7 linked regions of the Homo sapiens genome follow. The protein of the gene in region 1 purifies or fractionates together with the protein of each later gene. This does not show direct contact. Each region holds a gene or a part of one and is shown in the gene's direction. Other genes may lie near its edges.

The links.
Region 2: the proteins of PPM1H (region 1) and SIPA1L1 purify together in Homo sapiens (affinity purification with mass spectrometry, with the first as the bait; one large-scale study listed by BioGRID). This does not show direct contact.
Region 3: the proteins of PPM1H (region 1) and RALGPS2 purify together in Homo sapiens (affinity purification with mass spectrometry, with the first as the bait; one large-scale study listed by BioGRID). This does not show direct contact.
Region 4: the proteins of PPM1H (region 1) and CGN purify together in Homo sapiens (affinity purification with mass spectrometry, with the first as the bait; one large-scale study listed by BioGRID). This does not show direct contact.
Region 5: the proteins of PPM1H (region 1) and CAMSAP2 purify together in Homo sapiens (affinity purification with mass spectrometry, with the first as the bait; one large-scale study listed by BioGRID). This does not show direct contact.
Region 6: the proteins of PPM1H (region 1) and MAST3 purify together in Homo sapiens (affinity purification with mass spectrometry, with the first as the bait; one large-scale study listed by BioGRID). This does not show direct contact.
Region 7: the proteins of PPM1H (region 1) and KIF1C purify together in Homo sapiens (affinity purification with mass spectrometry, with the first as the bait; one large-scale study listed by BioGRID). This does not show direct contact.

The regions. Positions count from the first base shown.
Region 1 is NC_000012.12:62,925,151-62,928,650, reverse strand, and holds part of PPM1H (protein phosphatase 1H), read left to right. Parts: intron 1-3,500. UniProt on the Homo sapiens protein: Dephosphorylates CDKN1B at 'Thr-187', thus removing a signal for proteasomal degradation.
Region 2 is NC_000014.9:71,666,476-71,669,975, forward strand, and holds part of SIPA1L1 (signal-induced proliferation-associated 1-like protein 1), read left to right. Parts: intron 1-3,500.
Region 3 is NC_000001.11:178,885,744-178,889,243, forward strand, and holds part of RALGPS2 (ras-specific guanine nucleotide-releasing factor RalGPS2), read left to right. Parts: intron 1-225; coding exon 226-377; intron 378-3,500. UniProt on the Homo sapiens protein: Guanine nucleotide exchange factor for the small GTPase RALA. May be involved in cytoskeletal organization. May also be involved in the stimulation of transcription in a Ras-independent fashion.
Region 4 is NC_000001.11:151,524,887-151,528,386, forward strand, and holds part of CGN (cingulin), read left to right. Parts: intron 1-755; coding exon 756-904; intron 905-2,088; coding exon 2,089-2,221; intron 2,222-2,944; exon of another isoform or gene 2,945-3,052; intron 3,053-3,500. UniProt on the Homo sapiens protein: Probably plays a role in the formation and regulation of the tight junction (TJ) paracellular permeability barrier.
Region 5 is NC_000001.11:200,741,893-200,745,392, forward strand, and holds part of CAMSAP2 (calmodulin-regulated spectrin-associated protein 2), read left to right. Parts: intron 1-3,500. UniProt on the Homo sapiens protein: Key microtubule-organizing protein that specifically binds the minus-end of non-centrosomal microtubules and regulates their dynamics and organization.
Region 6 is NC_000019.10:18,142,778-18,146,277, forward strand, and holds part of MAST3 (microtubule-associated serine/threonine-protein kinase 3), read left to right. Parts: intron 1-883; exon of another isoform or gene 884-985; coding exon 986-1,230; intron 1,231-1,688; coding exon 1,689-1,916; intron 1,917-2,225; coding exon 2,226-2,452; intron 2,453-2,965; coding exon 2,966-3,088; intron 3,089-3,500.
Region 7 is NC_000017.11:5,004,450-5,007,949, forward strand, and holds part of KIF1C (kinesin-like protein KIF1C), read left to right. Parts: intron 1-117; coding exon 118-196; intron 197-405; coding exon 406-551; intron 552-2,465; coding exon 2,466-2,635; intron 2,636-2,813; coding exon 2,814-2,893; intron 2,894-3,017; coding exon 3,018-3,093; intron 3,094-3,500. UniProt on the Homo sapiens protein: Motor required for the retrograde transport of Golgi vesicles to the endoplasmic reticulum. Has a microtubule plus end-directed motility.

The DNA.
Region 1 (3,500 bases):
GCTTAAGGAACAGGATTGGCGCCAACGTTGTGACTTAGTAGAGAAGAGAGGCCTGACTCAAGTTTGGTGGAGGAGAGAATCTTTGTCATCCTTGCAGATGGGGGAGAAGGGGGAGAGAGTAGGTGGGACTGCAGTTATTTAACTGTGATTTTCATTCTGACTTATCTGCATTACTTCTGTGACCCTCCATAATTGACTGTGTTTCCTACTGACCATGTAAGGAGAGCAGATGCCCTTAATTATGGTGCAAAAGATGCAGGATTGAACCTAATTATACAACATAATGTTATGGCAAAGAGTTGAGGAGCCTTTCCCAAGTTGTTTTTTTAGATAAGTGGTTTTCACTAGCTTTCCAGTTTGGTACTACAGTAGATACTTTGCAAATTATTAGCTTAAGAACGGTATAGCATTTGATTTGTTTGGCCCATCTCCCATATACCATATAGTGATAGGATTATCCCTATTTATACTTTATTAGAGGCATTAAAAATTGCTAAATGCAATAGTCATTTGTTGAGCTAGTCCTGTGTGTAGGTTCTCTATTAAGCACTTTATGTATAAGGATTTAATGAGATGAATGCAACGTAGGTAAGTTATTTGTTCAAAGTAACAAAGCTTTTTAAGTGGCAGATCTTGGATTCATATCCAGTTCTGTGGAACGCCTACCTTTGGTGGTTTTTCACTGTGTCTAATGAAATACTTAAAACATTTTTAACCATGAGATACTCATTATAGGAAATTCAGATAATATAGACTAGTAAAAGATATGAAGAACAGAGTGAAAAATGTTTGTTAATTCATTAGCCACTGTTAGTATTTTAGATTTGGTCTCTCAGATTTTTTATATAGGTATTTTTTTAAAAAAAATAAAAGCTGATCATATGTTTACATGTCTTATAACATGTCTCCTTCACTTAAGAATATAAAATGGTCCCCTCTTCAACGTATATTATTTTCTTTTTTCTTTTTCTTTTCTTTTTTTTTTTTTGAGACGGAGTTTCGCTCTTGTTGCCCAGGCTGGAGTGCAGTGGTACGATCTCGGCTTACTGCAACCTCTGCCTCCTGGGTTCAAGTGATTCTCCTGCCTCAGCCTCCTGAGAAGCTGGGATTACAGGCGCCCACCACCACACCCAGGTAATTTTTTTGTATTTTTAGTAGAGATGAGGTTTCCTCATGTTGGCCACACTGGTCTTAAACTCCTGACCTCAGGTGATCCACCTGCCTCAGCCTCCCAAAATGTAGGGATGACAGGCGTGAGCCACCGCACCCGGCCTCCAACATATATTCTTATATGTCGACTGCCTAATATTCCATTGAAGGGCTTCCCATTCATGAATCTCCCATTGAACATTTAGATTTACTTTTAGGCTTTTAGTGAATATCTTCATATGTTTTCTTCAGCTCATTCAGTTGTTTCCTTATGATTAATTTCTAGACATGGAAAGCTTGGTTAGAAGCTATGCACATTCACAACTGTGATACATATCAGATTGGTTGTATCAATTCACACTGCAGCCAGCAGTGTCTACCACTTTAGTATTAAGCCTTTAATATTTGTCAGTGATCTGATAGATGAAATATACTTCATTGTAATCTGTTTGATTATTGAAGAAAATGAATAAACAGATGTATATACTTATATGTTATAGATATTTATTAGCCATTTAAATATCTTTTTGTTGTTGTTGTTGTTTTTTGAGACAGAGTCTTGCTCTGTCCTGCAGGCTGGAGTGCAATGGCACAATCTTGGCTCACTGCAACCTCCGCCTCCCGGGTGCAAGCAGTTCTCCTGCCTCTGCCTCCTGAGTAGCTGGGATTACAGGCATGCGCCACCATGCCTGGCTAATTTTGTATTTTTAGTACAGATGGGGTTTCTCCATGTTGGTCAGGCTGGTCTCAAGCTCCCAACCTCAGGTGATCCGCCCACCTCGGCCTCCCAAAGTGCTGGGATTACAGGAGTGAGCCACCGCACCTGACCCATTTAGAGATCTTTTTACGGTTTTCCTGTTTATATTCATTTTTCTGTTGAGATAATGTTTCATATTTATAAGAGCTCTTTATATTTTAAGGCTGTTCACCCTTGGCCTATTATGTTGTGATATTTTTTCTAACATGTTCATTTTTTAACTTCATTTTTTTTCTTTGCAATGCAAAATTTAATATTTGGGTGGTCATACCTAATCTCCTCTATGGCTTCTATTTCATATCAGGCTTAGAACATGTAAAGTACTAGAATAACCATCCTACTCCTTTTAGCTACTTACTGCCCTTGGTTGCAACTCATAGAAATGCCTTTGAGCTAACTTTGGGGTGGTGGGGGGAAGGAAATGGTGATTAGATACCAACTGTCTTATAGAACCCAAGTATAGGAATAACTTGGATTTTACAAGGGACTGGAACCCTGAACTAGAAAGCTATTCAGCAACAAAGTGGCCATTCTTTCAGTCTTTCACCAGGGCACGGGTGACTTCTCCATGCCACCAACAAGCAACCAGACCACATCAACTGTGGCTTCAATTCCAATTTTGAATTTTTGGGAGAGAGACTCCAATAGGTTCAGTTTGTCTCAGATGTCCACCTTCTCCACAGGTGATTATGGCTGCCAGGACCCACCCCTGAAAATGGGCAGTTCTTTAAAAAGGAGGTGGTGGTAGTTAGGGCTGGGCAGATAGTTTCGAAGATTCTACTACTATAGATAACTCAGTCAACAAATATTTGAGTACCTTATTTGTTTCAGGCACATATTAGAAGACAGATGAAATGACCAAATAGACAAATGTGTCAACAGGCAAATAGTGTTTGTGTCTGAATGTGCCTGCTGCCCTGCCTTGCAGACCTTGGGGAGCTGTCTAGGCTAGGAATTCAAAACTGCCCCAAAAATGCCATAGAAGGGATAAAGACTCAGGCCAGCTTTGGAACTAAATATGGCTATATGGCTTGAAGGTTTGTACCAATAAATGAGTATTACATGTTAATATAAGATGATGTAGCTCTTCAGCCACAGGGGTATAAACCTGGCTAGCATGACACACCAGAGCTCTGCTCATTGTTGTTTGTTCATTTGTTTGTTTTTTTGAGATAGTCTCGCTCTGTCACCCAGGTTGAAGTGCAGTGGCACAATCTTGGCTCACTACAACACCTGCCTCCCCAGTTCCAGCAATTCTCATGCCTCAGCCTCCCGAGTAGCTATGACTACAGGCACATGCCACCACGCCTGGCTAATTTTTGTATTTTTAGTAGGGACGAGTTTCCTCATGTTGCCCAGGCTGGTCTTGAACTCCTGGCCTCAAGTAATGCACCCACCTTGGCCTCCCAAAATGCTGGGATTGCAGGTGTGAGTCACTGTACCCCACCTGCTCCCTGTTATTTTATTTCTTTTGCTCATCTCATTTGTCTAGGCAGGTAGGGTAATGACAGACATATTTGGTGAATGGATGTTTATTTTATAAAACAAAAGTTCAACTTCTATAGTTTCCCCTTTTTTAATTAGTCTAAGATAT
Region 2 (3,500 bases), on another chromosome or scaffold:
GTAAATTGGAACATTGACACACTATTTGATGAAATAAAAGAGTTGTTATTCATTTTAAAACTAAAATAGTAATAAGTAGTCATAACAAGGACCCTGATTGTTCAAAACAAATATTAAACTGTGGTCAGTAGGTATGTTTAGGAAGGTAGAAATATGTGTTACTCCTCTCAGAGAGGTTTCCATACCCGGTAATTAAAATGTAATAACTGTTGAAAGGAATCTGTATGATATAGTACAAAAAGCACTTGGAATTAGACCAAATTGTTAAACAGTGCAGTGGGAAGTTGCTTGACATCCACTTAAAATCCTATTAAGTAAAATGTCTAGCATAGGCAGGGAGGAAGCGTGATGCATGTCCATTAAATGTCTGTGTTCATCCTCTTTCCTCTCTGTAAAAAAAAAAAAAAAAAAAAAAGAATTTGCAAGCTTCAGCTGAGAAGAAGAAAAATCCAAGTAGGTCAAGTGATAGAAATTTCTTTCAGAAGGTCTATTTCAAGCCTCAATTAATCAGCATCCCTATTGTCCACTGCAGCTGACCTTTCTAAGACAAGAATCTGATTATGTCATTTATTGTGCTTAAAAGCATTTAGAGGAAAGTTCAGACTTGCAAGCATAGCTTACTGCATGGGGGCTTCAGGTTTGGCCTCCTGTCTCTCAGTCTCATCTACCAGTCTGCACCCCATGCCTACCTCACTCCTTTGGAGCTACTCACCACTCCCCAGAACAGCATGCTCTGCCCCTCCGCTCTGCACATGCTGCTCCTCTCACACATTCCCCTTTCCCTCCATCTGATGAATTCCTGCTTTTCTTTTTTCTGAGAAGGCTCCCTGGACCTCCCAGGACTAAAGTGCCTTTCCTAAGTGCTACCAGTAGCACCCTGTACTTCGCAAGTAGGAGACTCAAATCACTGGCTGTGGCTCCCACCAGACTTTGAGTTTCTGGAGGGCTGAGCCCGGGACATCTTCAGCCTTGATCCTCAGCAAAGGCAAAGTGCCTAGCACATAGTAGGTACTCAGTGACTGGTGGATCAATACTATTAGAAATCGAGAGAATGATTGGCACGTGTTTGATCTTTCCTGTCCTTTGCCCAGATCTGCTTTCTTGGAAGCTGCCCTGGCCAGTAATCTGATTCAGGCTCCAAGAAGAGGAAACTTCCTTCTCCCATTTGATGTTTTCTGTATCACCTTCCTTTTAAATTTTGGGCTGGGGATTGTTGATTATTGCTGTTTTTCCATTGTGCTTCCAAAGTTCAAATGTCTTATATTTCTCAATTTTTATCCACTAAACTGTTCAGAAGTCTTTGAAACAGGCCGGGCGTGTTGGCTCATGCCTGTAATCCCAGCAATTTGGAAGGCTGAGGCAGGCGGATCATGAAGTCAGGAGATCGAGACCATCCTGGCTAACACAGTGAAACCCTGTCTCTACTAAAAATACAAAAAATTAGCCAGGCGAGATGGCGGGCCCCTGTAGTTCCAGCTTCTGGGGAGGCTGAGGCAGGAGAATTGCTTGAACCCAGGAGGCAGAGGTTGCAGTGAGCCGAGATCGCGCCACTGCACTCCAGCCTGGGCAACAGAGTGAGACTCCGTCTCAAAAAAAAAAAAAGTCTTTGGAACATTTTCATGTGTCAGCTTGAAGTTGGCTTTGGGTATCAACACTTGTTATTTCATTCAAGCTCTTTGATGCCAACCAATGTTACATGGCCCATATCGAGTAGAAATAGCCTCATCATCTCTTAGGCCATGTGACCCATGTGAATGGTCCCTTTTAGCAGGCACCTCAGGAGTAGGAGGTTTGAAAGCACTTCCTCAGAGGGAGTAAGTGTGGGCTTGTCGTGGAGCACTCTCTTGGCTGTCCAGAAGCTTACATTCCAATCCTGGCTCTCTCTAACAAATCTGGGTAAATCCTTTTACTTCTCTGTATCTGTTCCTGGAGAAGTGAAGAATTTGTACCAGCTGCTCAACCGGAGGTTCATGAAGATGTCAAACCACAGAATACAAACAAGACACCTTCCTGGTCGCTCAGTGTACCCAAAGATTTTGGAGTGAGAAGATATTTTTATATGAAAATGAACACAAATATTTTTCAGTAGAATGTAAAATCGAGGTGAATTTTCAAATGAAACCCAAAGATTTTACTGAAAGAATTTGAGGAACATTGAGTTCTGTTAAGTTCCCTTCCTGTGATAACTTTCCATCACTGTTTTAGCCTCTAGCTCTGTCTGTCTGTCATCTAGATAACCCTGCTGAGTAGAACATTCCAGTCCTCAACAATGCTGGGTAAATAAAGCATGGCTATGATTTTAAAGCATGTATTATTTCCAAGAAGACACAGAATTGCCAACTAGGCTAATATACATACAGCCAAGCAGAGGCCCTTTGGAATCTGCTTTTAAAAATACCAAGAACCGTTTATAATTAATATATCTTAAGTAACTACATGCAGCAAACTGAGATTCTAGAAAGGCTTTTTTTCTAAATATTCTGTTTAGCTTAAACCAGGCCTTATTATCAAGAGTTCAGAATTTGTGGCATCTAAATTAATGAGCTTTTAACCTTGTAGAAACCTTGCCAGTTTGATTTATCCAAAACAAAATCATTTATTTGAAAAGAGCATTCCAGGGTATCATCTTCCTCATCTTCTGTAAGGATTCTATTTCTGACTATGCGAAGCTGATTTCAGTGCCTGTATCATTTACCTCCCTACCACAGTGAATCATTGAAAATTATATGGTAAGGATTCAGTTCTTTTCCTCACAGTTCATTATAGCTGTTTCTAATTATTGGTAGGTTTTCAGTGTATGTTTGTCTAAAGTTCTATCAATTAATAAATGGATCTGCAGAAAGCCAGTTAGTTTAAGGGGCAAGTAGATGGAGGGTGCTTAAAATCACACCCCCTGCTAAACATTTTGCTCTCCTTATTTAAAATAAAATCACAGATATTTTCTGAGAAGGAATAACAATTTGAGTGAAATAGCAGATGAGAAGTTGCCAATTTTAAAGTGAAAGATATTAAATATTTCTGGATTCTTACAGGATTCCACTTAGAAAAATCTAGCAAACCTGGATTTCAGCATCTTTTGCTTGACTTTAAGAGAAAAATAACACGATCAAATTAAAATTATACAGCTGTCAGCGTTCAAGTCAGGCAGTTCACAATAGACAAGAAAAATTGCCTTCCTAATACATATTGGTATAATTAAGCCATATGGAAGTCTCTGAATTCTCTCCTCCAGTTAGAAAATGGAGTGTTGGTTGCCACTGTTCTTTGTCATGAAGTGAACTAGGTAGTCTTTTAAAAATACACTTGTAAAACCAACAGATAGGCCATCCCATGGCATCTTCTGAGCATGTAGCTTTTCCATTCCACCAGAAATATAATTTGCCTCCTGAGGTTGCTGATTTTTATTTTTCTTATTTTCACAAGAAATAACTATTTCTTGAAAAACAAAGCTGAATATCTTAAAGCAAACCCTTCCTAAAGAAAAAAAAGTGAAACAGAGC
Region 3 (3,500 bases), on another chromosome or scaffold:
ACACGAGGCTTAAAATGAAATTATTTTAAAGTATGCTCTAATTATATAGATAGATAGGGCCAGGTTTCCTAAAACATTTTCCCTAAACTGTTCATTTGAGGCTTTTATGGTAAGATCTGAGTATGACAGTTAGGTAAATCTTTTATGTCCTAAATCTTTATATAAAGAGCAGTTTTTAAATTAGTAACAATAATAAAAGATATGAACTTTTTTTTCTGTTTCTAGTTTCATTCATAAAATGAACACAGCAGAATTTAAGAGTGCAACGTTTCCAAATGCAGGACCAAGACATCTGTTAGATGATAGCGTCATGGAGCCCCATGCGCCATCTCGAGGCCAAGCTGAAAGTTCTACTCTTTCTAGTGGAATATCAATAGGTGAGAAATACTTCTCTGAGAGGGTTGCAATTTAACTTTAAATAAAAATGTTAATAAAACTTGGCTGGAAAAAAACCCCACCCACACACAGAGAAAATTTGGTTAAAAAAACAAAGTAGCAGTTAAATATGGGATGAAGTTAATAATTTGTGATGGTTTTAAAAGTGCTTGCTGTTTTTAACTCCAGAAGGGGAAGCATTTGAAGAAGGTGGAAAAAGAACATATGGGCTGGTTGAATTAGTTAACTGCATGTGATTTGGATATGGGGAGGAGGAAGAGTGTGGAGTCAAGAATGACTTCCGGTTATTTGGGTTAAACAAGTATAATAGTTAGATGATGATGCTATTACCAAGGTAGAGAAGACAGAGTAATAATCTGTGGGCAGTGAAGCGTTTGTGAATTTGGGGAATCAGGTGTGTTTTGGACATGTTTAGTCCCTATGGAGATGTCAGGTAGGTTGTTGAATATGTGAATCTGGAGCTCGGGGATAAGGTCAGATCTGAAGATATACGAGAGGTAGCATATTTATAAGCCATGATTGGTTGAGGGTACCTAAAGAGAGAGTGTACATAAATAAAAAAACATTCTCACATTTAGAAGTCTGATTATTTTTTAAAAGAAGGATGAGTCATCAAAGGAAACTAAAAAGGAGAGATCAGTGAAGTAAGGGGAAAAAAACAAAAGCCCAGTAGATGAAGTATCTCAAGGAGGAGGAAAGTACTGAATGTGTGAATATCAAATGCAGAACAAGAGAGCTAAGATGAGAATGGGGAATTGACTGGGGGATTTGGCAAGATAAAAGTCATTGGTGACCTTGATAAGAGTTGCTTCATGGAAGTGTCAGGGCATGGCCTGGATTGGAGTAGATTTGAAAATGAGAGGTGAGGAAACAGAGATAGCTACTGTGAAGGAGAGCAGAAAATAGAGACCATATTAGAAAGGGATGTGAGATTAAGAGAGGGATTTGTTTGTTTTTACTTCCTAAACTTTTAATTTTTGAGTCTTCTAGATGAGCATTATTTCTTGTTACAATTAGAAATTATTCATATAGCCTGGGCAGTGTGGCTCACACCTGTAATCCCAGCACTTTGGGAGGCCCAGATGGGCAGATCTCTTGAGGTCAGGAGTTCAAAATGAGCCTGGCCAACATGGCAAAACCCCATCTCTACTAAAAATACAAAAAGTAGCAGGGCGTGGTGGTGCATGCCTGTAATCCCAGCTACTTAGGAGGCTGAGGCATAGGAATCATTTGAACCCAGGAAACAGAGGTTGCAGCGAGCCATGTTCGCAGCACTGCACTACCCTGCCTGGATCACAGAGCGAGATTCTGTCTCAAAAAAAGAAAGAAATTGTTCATATAATAGCTACTTTTATTTTTAAAAAGAAATAAAGGAGGAATATGTCTTCATCTATGATTAACTACCAGATTGTTCAAGGACTAAGCCTATTGTTACTAATATCTTAATATTGGTAAACAGCCAGTAGAAGGAGATGCAAAAGGAGATTGATTTTCTGGAACATACTGACTTTCTTAGCCCTTGAGAGTTAAAATTAAATTATTTCAGAGCTCTCCATTACCATTCAGTAGTTGTTTATTCTGATAGTCCCCTTTTTATATAAAAATACAAGTGATTAAATGATAAAATGTTTTAAAAAGAAGGCAAGTTTGTCACCTGAAATACCTCTTATCAATGTTCTAAGTTGCCTATATGCAAATACTAATCTCAGTATGAAGAATAATTTTGCAAAAGAAAGAACTTTTTTTCAGTCAAAAATTTTCTACACGTCCATGGAATTTGGCATGCCACTTAAAGCAAAAAGTTTTTAAAATTACAGCTCTCAAGTATATAATATTTTACTCTTTCTCATAAGTGTTATAATGAGAATTATTCTGTAGTTTATAGCTTTTACTTTTCATGGATGTCCTTTTGGCTACCAAAAGATTATTGTTTAGTTATTTTATTGAGTTACAGTTAGTGTCTCAGTGTGGAGACTTTTCTCTTTTAGAGCAGATTTTTGCATTTGTGTTTATTTTTTAATTATTCTAAGGCTAAGTAAGTAAACAGTAAAAGATCATTGCATCCTAGTTTGTAAACTAAGAACATTACACATAGGCATTTACCTTCGAGGATTTTTGTTTTAAAGCTTTAACAATATGAAAAAAAGAATAAGTCTATTACCATAAGATGATAGGTGTTAATATACACACACGAGTTTTTCCCTCAGCTTTAACTTTTACATGCAATATTAATCTACAGTGAAGGCTTTGAAAATACTGTGGGAAAATTAACCAGTGCTTAGAACAATGGCCTTAAACATTTTCTAATGTGGTATCTATCCTAGATAATCTTGAGTAGTCTCACCTAGCTAACTAAGAGAAGCATATTCACTCTGAGCTTCATGCTTACATTTTCTACAAATAAGTTATCCTAATTATGCTTAAATTTTCAGTCTTTACCACATAGTGCCACAAATCAAAGGATAATGTAGATAATGTACAAGACCCCACCACCACCACGGGTTACCTCTGGTTCTTCTGAACCATACAATACAGAAAATTATTTCAGTGATTGTTATCTCAGTTTATCCAAGGATGGTACATAACTAGTGCCATTGCAAACCCGTAGAAGGGTATTAATCCATCGTCTCTAAGAGAGACGAGTCTAATGGATACCTTACAGCATCCATTACAGGTGTCTGATGGATACCTTACAGCATTAGAATTTGAGTCTCTCAGAACCCTGCCCGTAAAAAAGAGTTTGAGTCTCTCTTCTTAGAACCCTGTCTGATAGACAATTTAACTTGACCTATTAATCATCCTAATTTTTTTGAGAGCCAGAATTACCTTTAAAGTAACATTTAAGTAAACTAAGCTGTTTTGGACTCTCTAAATTCATTCCCCATAGTTTTTTTGTTGGTTTTTTTTCCCCCTAGCTAATTGTAAACGTTCTGTTTGAAGACCATTTTATTTTAACTGATCTTTTGGCCAAAGAGAAAATTGTTGCATTTTTATAGCACCGGTTTTTGGTTTTTTAAATTTAGAGATTCCATCTTCTTTGTCTCTAGAGACAAATAAGTGGATTTCATTAGGCTTTTTATACTTAGGGTAGTAATGGACTTTAA
Region 4 (3,500 bases), on another chromosome or scaffold:
GCATGTGACAAGAGCAGGGTCTGAGAGAGGAGGGCACTGCTGGAGAACAAGGCTGCCTTGGGATCTTGGACTTTTGGACTTTTCATGGTTGCAACTGGGAACTCCCCCTCTCCTCCTAAAGGACACAGTGAGATCTGCTGAAAACCTTGGGCAGGAAAACTATAGGGGCAGAGGGAGGGAGTACAGGCCAGAAGTACCTTGAGGTTGTGTGACAAAAGTCCCAAGGGGGACTGGGTGCGGTAGCTCATGCATGTAATCCCAGCACTTTGGGAGGCTGAGGCGGGTGGACTGCTTGAGCTCAGGAAGTTAGAGACCAGCCTGGGTAACATGGAGAAACCCCATCTCTGCCAAAAATACAAAAACTTAGCTGGGTGTAGTGATGCGTACTTGTAGTCCTAGCTACTTGGGAGGCTAAGGCAGGAGAATCGCTTGAACCAAGGAAGCGGAGGTTGCAGTGAGCCGAGATCATGCCATTGCACTTCACCCTGGGCAACACAGCGAGACTCTGTCCCCCTAAAAATAAAAAGTCCCAAGGGGAAATAACTGGGGAGGTTTCCTGTAGATGATAGAGGGGTGGACTGTGACTTGAGGAGAGAATCTCTGCTAGCATTGTACCAGGTACCACAAGAGTGTCAGGGGGTGCACCTGGCATGGTGCCCTCTGGGTCTAAGCCTTTCCTTGTACACACTCACACTTTGATTTGAAGTGACCTCTTCCCTCTGAGCCTTCTGGTGTCCAACTCTCCCCTTCTCTAGGACCATGCAGTGCTGGAGGCCGAGAGGCAGAAGATGTCAGCCCTTGTGCGAGGGCTGCAGAGGGAGCTGGAGGAGACTTCAGAGGAGACAGGGCATTGGCAGAGTATGTTCCAGAAGAACAAGGAGGATCTTAGAGCCACCAAGCAGGAGTAAGGACATTGGCCCTCTCAGAAATACCCATGATTCATATGCCACTTCCTTTCTTTTTTTTAATTTTTAATTTTAATTTTAATTTTAATTTATTTTTTGGGACAGAGTTTCGCTCTTGTTTCCCAGGCTGGAGTGTCATGGCACGATCTTGGCTCACTGCAACCTCTGCCTCCTGAGTTGAACAGATTCTCCTGCCTCAGCCTCCCAAGTAGCTGGGATTACAGGCGCATGCCACTACGCCCAGCTAATTTTTGTATTTTTAGTAGAGATGAGGTTTTACCATGTTGGCCAGGCCAGTCTCGAACTCCTGACCTCAGGTGATCTGTCCACCTTGCCTCCCAAAGCACTGGGATTACGGGTGTGAGCCGCTGCGCCTGGCCCCCTTTCTCCTTTTTTTTTTTTTTTGAGATGGAGTCACACTCTGTTGCCCAGGCTAGAGTGCAGTGGTGCAGTCTTGGCTCACTGCAGCCTCCGCCTCCTGGGTTCAAGCGATTCTCCTGCCTCAGCCTCCCGAGTAGCTGGGATTATAGGCGCCTGCCACTAGGCCTGGGTTTTTTGTATTTTTAGTAGAGACGGGGTTTCACCATATTGGCCAGGCTGGTCTTGAACTCCTGACTTCGTGATCCTCCCACCTCGGCCCCCCAAAACGCTGGGATTACAGGCGTGAGCCACTGCACCCAGTCCCTTTCTTCTTTTTTTTGAGACAGGGTCTTGCTCTGTTGCCCAGGCTGGAGTGCAGTGGCACAGTCTGGGCTCACTGCAACCTCCACCTCCTGGGCTCAAGCCATCCTCCCACCTCAGCCTCCCGAATAGGTGGGACTATAGGCATGCACCACCACACTTGGCTAATTTTTGTATTTTTTGTAGAGACGGGGTTTCATTATGTTGCCCAGGCTGGTCTTGAACTCCTGGGCTCAAGTGATCCATCTGCCTTGGCCTCCCAAATTGCTGGGATTACAGGCATGAGCCACCATGCCTGGCCCACTTCCTTTCTATCTATGGTATGCTCTTACTCTCCCATTTCTCAAACTGCTCTTTTCCACGTTCACCTTCCTTCCTCTTGAGAGTTGGTGCCCAGCGTGTTGGCCTCCAGAGAGGTGGCTTTTATTGTCATGCTAACCTCCCCCAGGCATGTGGCCTTACTCTGTTCCCTTTCCCCTTTATTTCACCTTGCCTGGCTCAGACTCCTGCAGCTGCGAATGGAGAAGGAGGAGATGGAAGAGGAGCTTGGAGAGAAGATAGAGGTCTTGCAGAGGGAATTAGAGCAGGCCCGAGCTAGTGCTGGAGATACTCGCCAGGTTGAGGTGCTCAAGAAGGTATTTGGGAATTGGGGGGCAGAATGGTAGGTAGGGGTGATGAACACCTGCCTTACCTCTCCATGAGGGCCTTCTTGCTAGTGGGGCTATCTCCTGTGTGCTTGGTTTCCAGGCCTCATCCTGCCTGCTCAGCTTGATCTCTTTCCAGCACAGCAGCACCAGTCTCCTCATTGAGCATAGAGGTTTCTAATGGAAAGTGCTCTCAGAACCCAGGTTGGGGTATAGCCAGAGGCTGCTGGCCGACTCCCAAGAGACGTCATGGGTAGCAGCATTTAGGTGGATTTGTGAAACTCCAGGATGATTTTTGCAGGCTCAGAAATCTAATTTGGTCAGCATGGCAAAAGCTGCTTTGTCTTTCAGAGGGGTCTCTAACTACATTTATGAAAAAATGTTTACCATTAGAATTTCAGTTTATTAATTTACATTGAGAAATATCATCACATGGACTGGAATACTTGTGTTGGCATGGCCTGGTTACTAATGTAACAAAACTAATTAGCAAAAGAAAAATAGCAGAGTATATGGTATTACATTGAAGATTCACTACATATTATATAACCCTTTAGCCTAATTATGGTACTTTCTGAATTTCAGAAGTAGCTAATAGCTAATAATTAGAACCAGAACTCCTATTTTAATTTTCTTTTTAAAAGAAATCAGAGCTGTGCCAGCATTTATTGTGTCACACATTTTGGTTTTATACACACACACACACACACACACACACACACGAAAGACAAGTGGCAGCTGCAGGGATTGTGCTGACCTGTTCTGTCAAAGTCTCTCCAGGTTGCTCTTGCATGCAGTTGGAGATCCCATGGCCACACTATATATATATATATATTTTTTTTTTTTTTTTTTTTTTTGAGACGGAGTCTCACTCTGTCACCCAGGGTGGAATGCAGTGGCGTGATCTCGGCTCACTGCAAGCTCCGCCTCCTGGGTTCACGCCGTTCTCCTGCCTCAGCCTCCCGAGTTGCTGGGACTACAGGCGCCCACCACCACGCCCGGCTAATTTTTTTTGTATTTTTACAAAAAAAATACACGTACTCAGTGTTTCACCGTGAAACATGGTTTCACCGTGTTAACCAGGTTGGTCTTGATCTCCTGACCTTGTGATCCGCCCTCCTTGGCCTCCCAAAGTGCCGGGATTACAGGCGTGAGCCACCGCACCCAGCCTCACACTGTATTTTTTTTAAACAACCAGCCTTACTAGCCATACCTTCATGTACTCTCCCTTCATGGTATTTTTTTTTTTATGGAGTTATATTTTACATGC
Region 5 (3,500 bases), on another chromosome or scaffold:
TAGGAGGAAATCAGTGCATAGAGAGGTTAACTTTCCTACTATCACAGTGTTAGTAAGTGGCAGAAGTGAGTTTTGATTTGAGGTCTGACTCAAAAGGGTAAAGGTATTGGTGGAGGTGGAACACTGCTGTTAGATACCCAGCACTCTGAATACATTACTTCATTTATTCCTGCAGCAACCCTGTAGATACTGTTCTCATTTTGCAGATAAGGTAACTGGCTCACAGATTAATTTGCACAAGATTAAACATCTGGCAAGTGATGTGTTCTGCATGTCTGACTCTGAAGCCTTTGCTTATTACTCTATACCGTTCTGCAGAGTAACCGTTTTATCTGCAGGTGTGAAAAATGTGCACATAGTACATATTGAAGTCTAATTTTTTCTTTAAAAATTGTACAAATCTTAATTCATTTTCAGATAGATGATATTGTTGGCTATTACATTTGCCTTGGCAGCAGTTGGAATGGATGAAAAGACCATATTCAAATGGGATGAAAAACAAGTTTAGAAGACCTTGAGTGACTTAGTAACAATATATTAATACATTATTAAGAATGTTATGTTTGTACATTTTGTTTATTCTTTATCAACAGTCTTTCAAAACAAATTTATATGGAGTGAATAGAAAAAAATTAGGAATTTTTTTGATGTAAATATTCTTTATTTGCTGCAGATACACTTATGCAGGAAAGGTTAATAGATAGCATATTTCAAAGGTATTACCTAATTATATTTAGTTGTTCAAAAAATCAGCCCAGCTTTCAATATGATTTACTAAAATCACTCCTTTAACAATGACTTACAGGGTCTTCAGGCACTGATTTGGTGTTTTCTATTAGAAACTTTCTAACTTTTGATGTACTGAAAAAGTAGTCAATTTTATAACCATATGTTGTAAAAGTCATTTAAAATGATAGCTAGAAATGTGAGCATAGAATGAAGTAATTGAACTTAAAAAAAAAACACTGATGTTGTAATACCTAGAAAGCAAATATGGAATATTTACTTAATTTGAAGTCTTAGGAGCCTTGAATCATTTTCTTCTCTTTACAGTAGTATTACAAAAGTATTACAAATAGCCCAAATTTTAATAGTTTATTTTGTGGAAGATGCAGATACAGGTTTGATTAAATGAAGAATACATTTTTATAGATGAATTTGAAACACTAAATCGATAATCCAAATTCCAAAGGAGGAAGTAGTTCAACTATCTGTGCCTTTTCTATATTTGAAGAGCTTAACCCATTTAAGCAAAGATTTTACAGAATTTTCTTTAAATGTTCTGTTCTCTTAAATCCTTTGGGGGAAATGGTAGATGCAAAACCTCTTGTGACACTCTTACTAAACTCTTGAATTTGGAATTCAAGGCCCACTTCCTAGTGTCAGTTTATCACTTCAATCTTCTCAACTATTATTCTCCTTTTTATCCCATTTAGTTTAGTGATATAAAATATTTCCTATCATAAATATACCTTGTTACATTTCTTTGTCTGTCTTAACAAATCTTGCTGTCAAAGTCCTGTATAAGGTCTGACTCTTGTGCATATATGAAGATAGTTGAGAGCAGTGGGTAGCATTGTGGTTAAGAGAGACCCGTAGCAGAGGGGCCAGTTTGGGACATTATTGCAAGAGTCTGGGCAAAAGATAAGGTCCTGTGTCTTTGACTTTGTAGTCAACAGAAAATTTACCAATAAGAAAAAAAAAAAAGAAGTTCATGAGGTCTTGAAGTGGTAGGGGGCGGGTATGATAATAAAGCTGCTAATATAGGCTGGGCATGGTGGCTCATGCCTGTAATCCCAGCACTTTGGGAGACCAAGGCGGGTGGATCACCTGAGGTCAGAAGTTCAAGACCAGCGTGACCAACATGGTGAAACCCCGTCTCTACTAAAAATAGAAAAATTAGCTGGGCATGGTGGCGAGTGCCTGTAATCCCAACTACTCAGGAGGCTGAGGCAGGATAATCGCTTGAACCCAGGAAGTGGAGGTTGCAGTGAGCCGAGATGGTGCCATTGCATTCCAGCCTGGGCAACAGAGCAAGACTCTGTCTCAATAAATAAATAAATAAATAAATAAATAAATAAATAAATAAAGCTGCTAATACTTATTGAGCTCCTACACTGTGTGTCAAGCACTTTACACATACTGTATCATTTAAATCCTCATGACAGCCTTTTGAGGTGGAAAGGTTACTTATTCCAATTTTACTGATGAGGAAAGTGTCCGGGGACTTAGGAACTCTTCCAGAGTTACCCAACTAATGGAGCTGGGATCTGAACCCAGGGAATTTGACTTCAGCCTGTACTTGTAACTACTGTTCTCTATGGGTAGAAGTCAAAAAATGGAAAGGAGGCAAATGATAGAAAAAATGTTGCAGAGATTTAATCTCTAGTATTTCTAAGTGGGTACATGGGAAATGGTTTGAATGAAAAGGGAATGTGTAAGAGGGTGAGGTCGCCTGAGGTTTTAAGAAGGATGAGGTTACCTGAGATTTTGAGATTTGGTGACTGACAGGCTGAATTGAGATGCCATTGACAGAGAAGAAAGTATAGTAACACTGAAGCCCTGGAAGGAGAAAATTTCAAGGAGAATGGTCTGATTCAACAGTGTCAAATCCTATGTGTTTAAGCTATGCCTTTCTTTTAAGAGTTTATGCTTTGCTAGGGGAGGTATGATAAATGTATAACCACAGTAGAGTTCAGAAATAAGCTAAGAGTCATATAATTGGAAATATGACATTCAGAGGGAGACTGGTGGCGTTAGGATGCGGTGGGGTGGCAGGGGAGAGGCCATTTCCAGCCTCATCAGTGGTCTGTGAAGGAAGACCTCTCTAGTGGAGGTGGTATTTAAGCTATAGGCTGAATTGAAAGTAGGCATGGTAGATGGAGGAAATGGTTTGTGTGTAGACATGGAGTTGTGAAACCCAGGTAGTGCTAATGAAACAACATAGACCAGATTGATGGGATGAGGTTTATGTAATGAAGCAGTGAGAGAGCCAGCTTGAAAGACAAACGGACAGAATTATGTGAAGGGTGAGGTGAAGGAATTTGGTATTTATTTAGTAGTTAAATTATCCTAAGCACATTGGATTAAAAAAAAAAGAAAAAATACTATTAAGTATATTAAACATGTAATTTGTGCTCATTATTCTTGTAAGCGTTTTATATGCATTATTTATTTTAATTCTGAGAATGAGCCTATTAAGTAGATATTATTTTATTCTAAGACTCTAAAACAGGGTTTCTCAACTGCAGAACTATTGGCCAGATAATTCTTTGTTGTTGGGGGCTGTCCTGTGCATTCTAGGATTTTAGCGGCATCTGTGGCCTCTACCCACCTGATGCCAGTAGTGTTCCCTACCACTACCCCTACTCCTACCCCAGTTGTGACAACCCAAAATGTCCCCAGACATCTCCAGATGTCTCCTGGGGAACAAAAGGAGCCCAGGTTGAGAATCACTGCTATAAATATTATAAGACACACTATTGTGATCTAAAAAGGTT
Region 6 (3,500 bases), on another chromosome or scaffold:
CTACAGGCGTGCACCACGGCACCCGGCTAATTTTTTAAGCAATTTTTTGTAGGCCAGGTGCAGTGACTTACACCTGTAATCCCAACACTTTGGGAAGCCGAGGCAGGTGGATTACCTGAGGTCAGGAGTTCAAGACCAGCCTGGTCAACATGGCAAAACCCCATCTCTACTAAAACTCCAAAAATTTAGCCGGGCATAGTGGTGCACGCCTGTAATCCCAGCTACTTGGGAGGCTTAGGCACGAGAATTGCTTGACCCTGGGAGGCGGAGGTTACAGTGAGCCAAGATCGTGCCACTGCACTCCGGCCGGGGTGACAGAGCGAGACTCTGTCTCAAAAAAAAAAAACAAAACAAAAAACAAAAAATTGCAGAGATGGGGTCTCCTTATGTTGCCCGCCCTGGTCTCGAACTCCTGGCCTCAAACAATCCTCCTGTCTCAGCCTCCCAAAGTGCTGGAATTATAGGTGTCAGCCACTGCACCCAGCCTGGAAGCTGGGTTTTAAAAGTTGAATAGGAAGCCGGGTGCAGTGGCTCACGCCTGTAATCCCAGCACTTTGGGACCCCAAGGCAGGCAGGTCACTTGAGCTCAGGAATTCAAGACCAGTCTGGCCAACATGGTGTAACCCCGTCTCTACTAAAAATACAAAAATTAGCCCAGTGTGGCGGCAGGCACCCATAATCCCAGCTACTTGGGAGGCTGAGGCAGGAGACTCACTTGAGCCCTGGAGGCAGTGGTTGTAGTGAGCTGAGATTGCACCACTGCACTTCAGCCTGGGTGACAGAGTGAGACCCTGTCTTTAAAAAAAAAGGTGAATAAGCGGTCTCCAGGTGGACAGAGAGGACAGTGCAGACAGAAGGAACTCGTCCTGTCTATGCAAATTACCCTTGACTGCAGACTGAGAGTTAAGATGTGGCCATGAAGGTGGCTGAGTATCCTGGGGTGCAGGTGCCTGGCAGGGGTGATGCAGGCTCTTCCTCCCTGCAGGCTGAGGTCCTGGACATCCTCTGGATCCTCCTGTCAGTCATCTTCGTCCCAGCCCGAGCGGGGTCCCAGCCCATCTCTCCTGAATACCATCAGCCTGGACACAATGCCCAAGTTTGCCTTCTCATCAGAGGATGAGGGGGTAGGCCCAGGCCCTGCAGGCCCCAAGAGGCCCGTCTTCATTCTAGGGGAGCCTGACCCCCCACCAGCGGCCACCCCAGTGATGCCCAAGCCCTCGAGCCTTTCTGGTAAGTGGGGCCCTGAGTAAGAGGGATGATGTCATGGAAGTTTCCCAGAGGAGGGGCTATTTGAGATGGGTTTTCAAGGATGAGTAGGAGTTCTCCAGAGCCAACAAAGGCTTTAAGAGAGGAGAAGCCAGGGTCCCAGAGAGACCCCCAGCCCCCAAGGAACCCCAGTCTAGGGTAAATGCCCCCAGCTTCATAGAGTCAGGATGGGACCCCTAGCTCCCAAGATGGGGGAACTAAGGGTCTAAATGGGTGTGGAGGAAGGCTTCCTGGAGGAGGGGACTTGAAGACTTTTGCATAGAGAATAATTTGGGAAGGGAGTGCAGGAAGAGGGAACTGCATGAGCAAAGGCCAGGAGGCTGGACTGTGTAAATAGTGACCAGGGAGGAAGGGCCTTAAGGTCCCTTTAGGACCACATGGTGAGTTTGAGGGGCACCCAGCTGACCCTGCTGACCCTCTAGCCGACACAGCTGCTCTCAGCCACGCCCGCCTACGGAGCAATAGCATCGGCGCCCGACACTCCACACCAAGGCCTCTGGATGCCGGCCGGGGCCGCCGCCTTGGGGGCCCAAGAGACCCAGCCCCTGAGAAGTCCAGAGCCTCCTCCAGCGGTGGCAGTGGTGGCGGCAGTGGGGGCCGCGTGCCCAAGTCAGCCTCTGTCTCTGCCCTGTCCCTCATCATCACGGCAGGTAATGCCCAAGGCCCCTCTCACCTTTGTCTGTCTGCACCCATTTTCACCAACAGGGTGGGGGCCCTTCCTGAGTTGGGGAGGCTGGGGATGAGCCCCAGAAGAGGGGAGGAGGAGTAGGACACATGGAGAGCTGGGGAGATGGTGTTCCCAGTAGAGGGCACTGCACGTGCAAAGGCCTGGTGGGGTGACCATGCTTGGGACATTGAAGCAACAGCAAAGTGGCCAGGGTGGTCGTTGTGGTGGGAAAGAGGGGGCCCCAGGGGAGACCTGTGAGGGAGTGAGTGACCCCCTCCCTAACCCCCTGCAGATGATGGCAGCGGCGGCCCCCTCATGAGCCCCCTTTCCCCGCGCTCTCTGTCCTCGAACCCGTCGTCCCGTGACTCTTCGCCGAGCCGAGACCCGTCCCCCGTGTGTGGCAGCCTGCGGCCCCCCATCGTTATCCACAGCTCTGGCAAGAAGTACGGCTTCAGCCTGCGGGCGATCCGCGTCTACATGGGTGATAGCGACGTCTACACTGTGCACCACGTCGTCTGGGTGAGTGCCGAGTGGGAATGGCAGGGACCCGGGTTCTAGTTTGACTCTGCCCGGTCATGTCCCTTCTCAGAGCTGCATTTTGGAGCCTGGCAGGGTTAGGTAGATAGAGCTGGTGCCACCGAGTTCATCTCGGTCCCTGTCATTTGGCAGGGAGGAGGTCAGATGAGAGAGACAAGGATGGATGGATGGAAGCTCACAGATCCCAAGTGGCATTAACCTCCCAGCTCCATATGGGGACGCACTGGGCATGTTATCCTCCCTCTCCCAGCCCAAGGGCGTCGAGGCATGCCCTCCCTATTGGTTGCTCCCTGAACAGACACAGAAGGCTTTCTGGAGAAGGGGGCGTAGGAGCTGGGGCTTTGATGGGTGAGTAGGAGTTCCCCCAGGATCAGGGAAACTGAGACAGCACAAGAGGCAGCAGCTTGCTGGGGTCCCACAGCAGACCCAGCCTGGGCTGGGGTCCCCAGATGTGGGGCCCAGGCCATTGACCCCACCGTTCTCGTCTGCCCCCAGAGTGTGGAGGACGGAAGCCCCGCCCAGGAGGCGGGCCTGCGGGCTGGGGACCTCATCACCCACATCAACGGGGAGTCAGTGCTGGGGCTGGTGCACATGGACGTCGTGGAGCTGCTGCTGAAGGTGCGGCACCCCCACTGCCCACCCTCAGGGCTCCCCAGCACCCCTTGGCCGCAGCTCCCGGTTCCCCGTGGTTCTCCGCGTCCAGACACACAACCCCACATTCAATGTCAACTCCAGGCCTGGCACATCCACTTCCTTCGGCCCAGAATACATGTCCTTCTTCAGCCCCCAACATCACCCCTTAGAGCTGCTCCTCCAGGAAGCCCTCCCTTCTCCCTGGGCACCCTCACATCTGTTCCTCCCTCTGGCCTGAGGCCTGGAGGTAGGAGATGGGCTCAAGACAGGAGGAAGGGCCGGGCGCGGTGGCACACGCCTGTAATCCCAGCACTTTGGGAGGCCGAGGCAGGATGATCACCTGAGCTCAGGACTTTGAGACCAGCCTGGGCAACAGAGCGAGACCCCCATCTCTGCA
Region 7 (3,500 bases), on another chromosome or scaffold:
CTCAGACCATGACCCTGTAAGACCTCTGCCTGGGCAGTGGGCCCCAGCCCTGTGACCCGGTCTGACTTTGCTTAGCCCCTCCCTCAGCTGAAGCTTTTCCATGCACTCCATTCACAGGGGGGAACTCACGCACAGCCATGATTGCAGCCCTGAGCCCTGCTGACATCAATTACGAGGAGACTCTCAGCACCCTCAGGTGAGGCTTTTGGCTCTAGCAGGGATGGGGCAGCATAGGAAGAGTGCCAGGAGTTCAGAGGCGAGTTGCTCAGGACCCTGCTCGTGAGACGGGGGAGATGCCGGAGCCTTGCCACAATATCTTGAGACCTGGGAGAGGGGGAAGGAGAAACAGCAGACCAAGGGTCCCCTGCCCCCAGGCCTCACCGACCCTGCTCCTCTGTCACCCAGGTATGCTGACCGCACCAAGCAAATCCGCTGCAATGCCATCATCAACGAGGACCCTAATGCCCGGCTGATTAGAGAGCTGCAGGAGGAAGTAGCCCGGCTGCGGGAACTGCTGATGGCTCAGGGACTGTCAGCCTCTGCTCTGGAAGGTCGAGGTTCCAGGGAGGGGCAGCTCAGGGATGCCCCTTGGCCCACCCCATCCCTCCTCACTTGCCTTTGCCCAGTCCTGGAGCCAGGGAGGGACCACACACTATGAAACCTTTCATGTGCTCAGTGACGTGGACACAGATGTGGAGAGGGAACGTATGTCTTCAGATGTTACAGAGCTGGGAGGGACTAATTCTCTAGGAGAGGATGAGGATCCAGAAGGACCTGTCAGGCTCCTGGAAGTAATGAAATGACTGTTACAGGAAAAAATGGCAATATATGCTTACAGGTCAAACAGTAAATTGTTAAGAGGCTAGGCTACTGGGTGACTTTCTTGACAGAAGTTCTTGCAAAACGTCAGAGTTGAAGTGGACCATAGCCTAACAGATCTCAGTGGAGTGCTTTCTGGTATGTCATGCTCAGCCTCACTGATGGAAATAGTGTCCAAATCAGAGGATGTGTAATCCATGTTGACGGTCAGGAATGGACCCTGCATTCAGTCTTGAGATCATCCCATTGAGGATAGTTAGGGTGCTGAAGGGCACAGTGTGGGGAGTATGAGTGTTCTTGGAAAGAGAAGGATAAGGTAGCTAGTGATGTTTGCCTTCCAACATTTGAGGGATTTTCTTGCAGAAGAGAAAGCAGTAAGGACTTTTTATCCCAGAGGGCAGAACTAGAAACACTAGCACACATGACGTGGGACCAGTTTCAGCTCAGCACAGCTAAGAATTCTTTTTTTTTTTTTTTGAGATGGAGTCTTGCTCTGTCGCTAGGCTGGAGTGCAGTGGCTCCATCTTGGCTCACTGCAACCTCCGCCTTCTGGGTTCAAGAGATTCTCCTGCCTCAGCCTCCCGAATAACTGGGATTACAGGCGCCCACCACCACACCTGGCTAATTTTTGTATTTTTAGTAGAGACGGGGGTTTTAGCCTGGCACAGTGGCTCACGCCTGTAATCCCAGCATTTGGGGAGGCCAAGGCAGGCAGGTCACCTGAGTTCAGGAGTTCGAGACCAGCCTGACCAACATGGTGAAACCCCGTCTCTACTAAAAATACAAAAATTAGCTAGGTGTGGTGGCACGCACCTGTAATCCCAGCTACTCGGGAGACTGAGGCAGGAGAATCACTTGAACCCAGGAGGTGGAGGTTGCGGTGAGCCAAGATGGAGCCATTGCACTCCAGCCTAGCGACAGAGCAAGACTCCGTCTCAGAAAAAAAAGTTCGACACAGAGGTTTCTAGACTGGCCAGGCTGGTCTTGAACTCCTGACCTAAGGTGATGCTCCCACCTTGGCCTCCCAAAGTGCTGGGATTATAGGTATGAGCCACTGTGTCCGGCCCAGCTAAGAATTTTCTCTTTTTGAGACAGTCACGCTCTGTCACCCAGGCTGGAGTGCAATGGCGTGGTCTCGGCTCACTGCAACCTCTACCTCCTGGGTTCAAGTGATTCTCCTGCCTCAGCCTCCCAAGTAGCTAGGATTACAGGTGCCTGCCACCACACCAGGCTAATTTTTGTATTTTAGTAGAGACGGGGTTTCACCATGTTGGCCAGGCTGGTCTCGAACTCCTGACCTCAGGTGATCCACCCGCCTGGGCCTCCCAAAGTGCTGGGATTACAGGTGTGAGTCACCACACCTAGCCCCACCTAAGAATTTTCTGATGGTGCAAATCATCTAATAGTGGAAAGGACTGGCCGCCTCCTTCAGTAATGAGCTCTCCACCCCTGGAGTTCAAGTAGAGAGACTGGGTGCCCATTTACCATGGCTGCAGTAGGAGGGCTCCTTGCCTGGTAGGAGGCTGACCAGCAGTCTTCTGTAGTCCTTACAGACTGGTCCTCTGTGAAGCTCTTGGTCTCCTGGATGTCTCTCATCAGCTCCTTCTTTCCTTAGCCTCATTCTTTTTCCTCTTTCTCCCTCCCAGGCCTGAAGACGGAAGAAGGGAGTGTCAGAGGCGCCCTGCCAGCTGTGTCATCTCCCCCAGCTCCAGTTTCACCCTCATCACCCACCACACATAATGGGGAGCTGGAGCCGTCATTCTCCCCCAACACGGAGTCCCAGATTGGGCCTGAGGAAGCCATGGAGAGGCTGCAGGTGGGAAGCTGGAGCTGGCAAGGGCTGGGGGTCTGGGCATTCCTGGGAGTTTACTTCTCCAAAGTCAAGCTTGAGAAAGAAGGAATTCTAGGAGTAGCATGGCCCCAGGGTAGGTTGTCCCTACCCTGGGTCTGCTTGTCCCAGACCATCCTGAAACCTACCCACCTTACGCCCCCAGGAGACAGAGAAGATTATAGCTGAGCTGAACGAGACATGGGAGGAGAAGCTACGCAAGACAGAAGCCCTGAGGATGGAGAGGTGTGAGGGCCGACAGTTGGGGTCCTGGGTGGAGTTGGAGGCCATGGGGGAGGTCAGGCCCCACAGGGAAGGAGGTCACGGGCAGTGAAGGTAAGACTGACATTTGCCTCTCCTCTGCCCACAGAGAAGCATTGCTGGCTGAGATGGGGGTGGCCGTCCGGGAGGATGGGGGAACTGTGGGCGTCTTCTCTCCAAAGAAGGTGAGTGAGGAATCGAGCGAGGAGGCCTAGAGAGCTCTCTGGATGCCTAGAAAAGAGGCAGCAGGTGCAGGGTAGTGAGTGCTGTCCCTGATCGCTCCCTTTGAGGTCCCCGGCTTGTCCCTCCATCATTTCTGTCCCCTCCCCTGCCACCTCCTCTCCGTCTTGTTTAGTCATCCCTGCCTTCTCCCTTCAGCCATTCAACAGTCAGCCTCAGGAGAGGGAGAGGACCTGGGAAATCGGAGGTTGGTTGCAATAGAGCATGCTTTTGTATCATTTGAGTTTTGTATTCTGTGCATGCTCAAAAAGATAACTAAAGAAATCTATTTTTCAGAAGGATAACTTGGGAAGACAAGACTAAAGGGAATAGAGGAGGCATGAGCACTACATTGTAAGACAGTGGTTGCCAG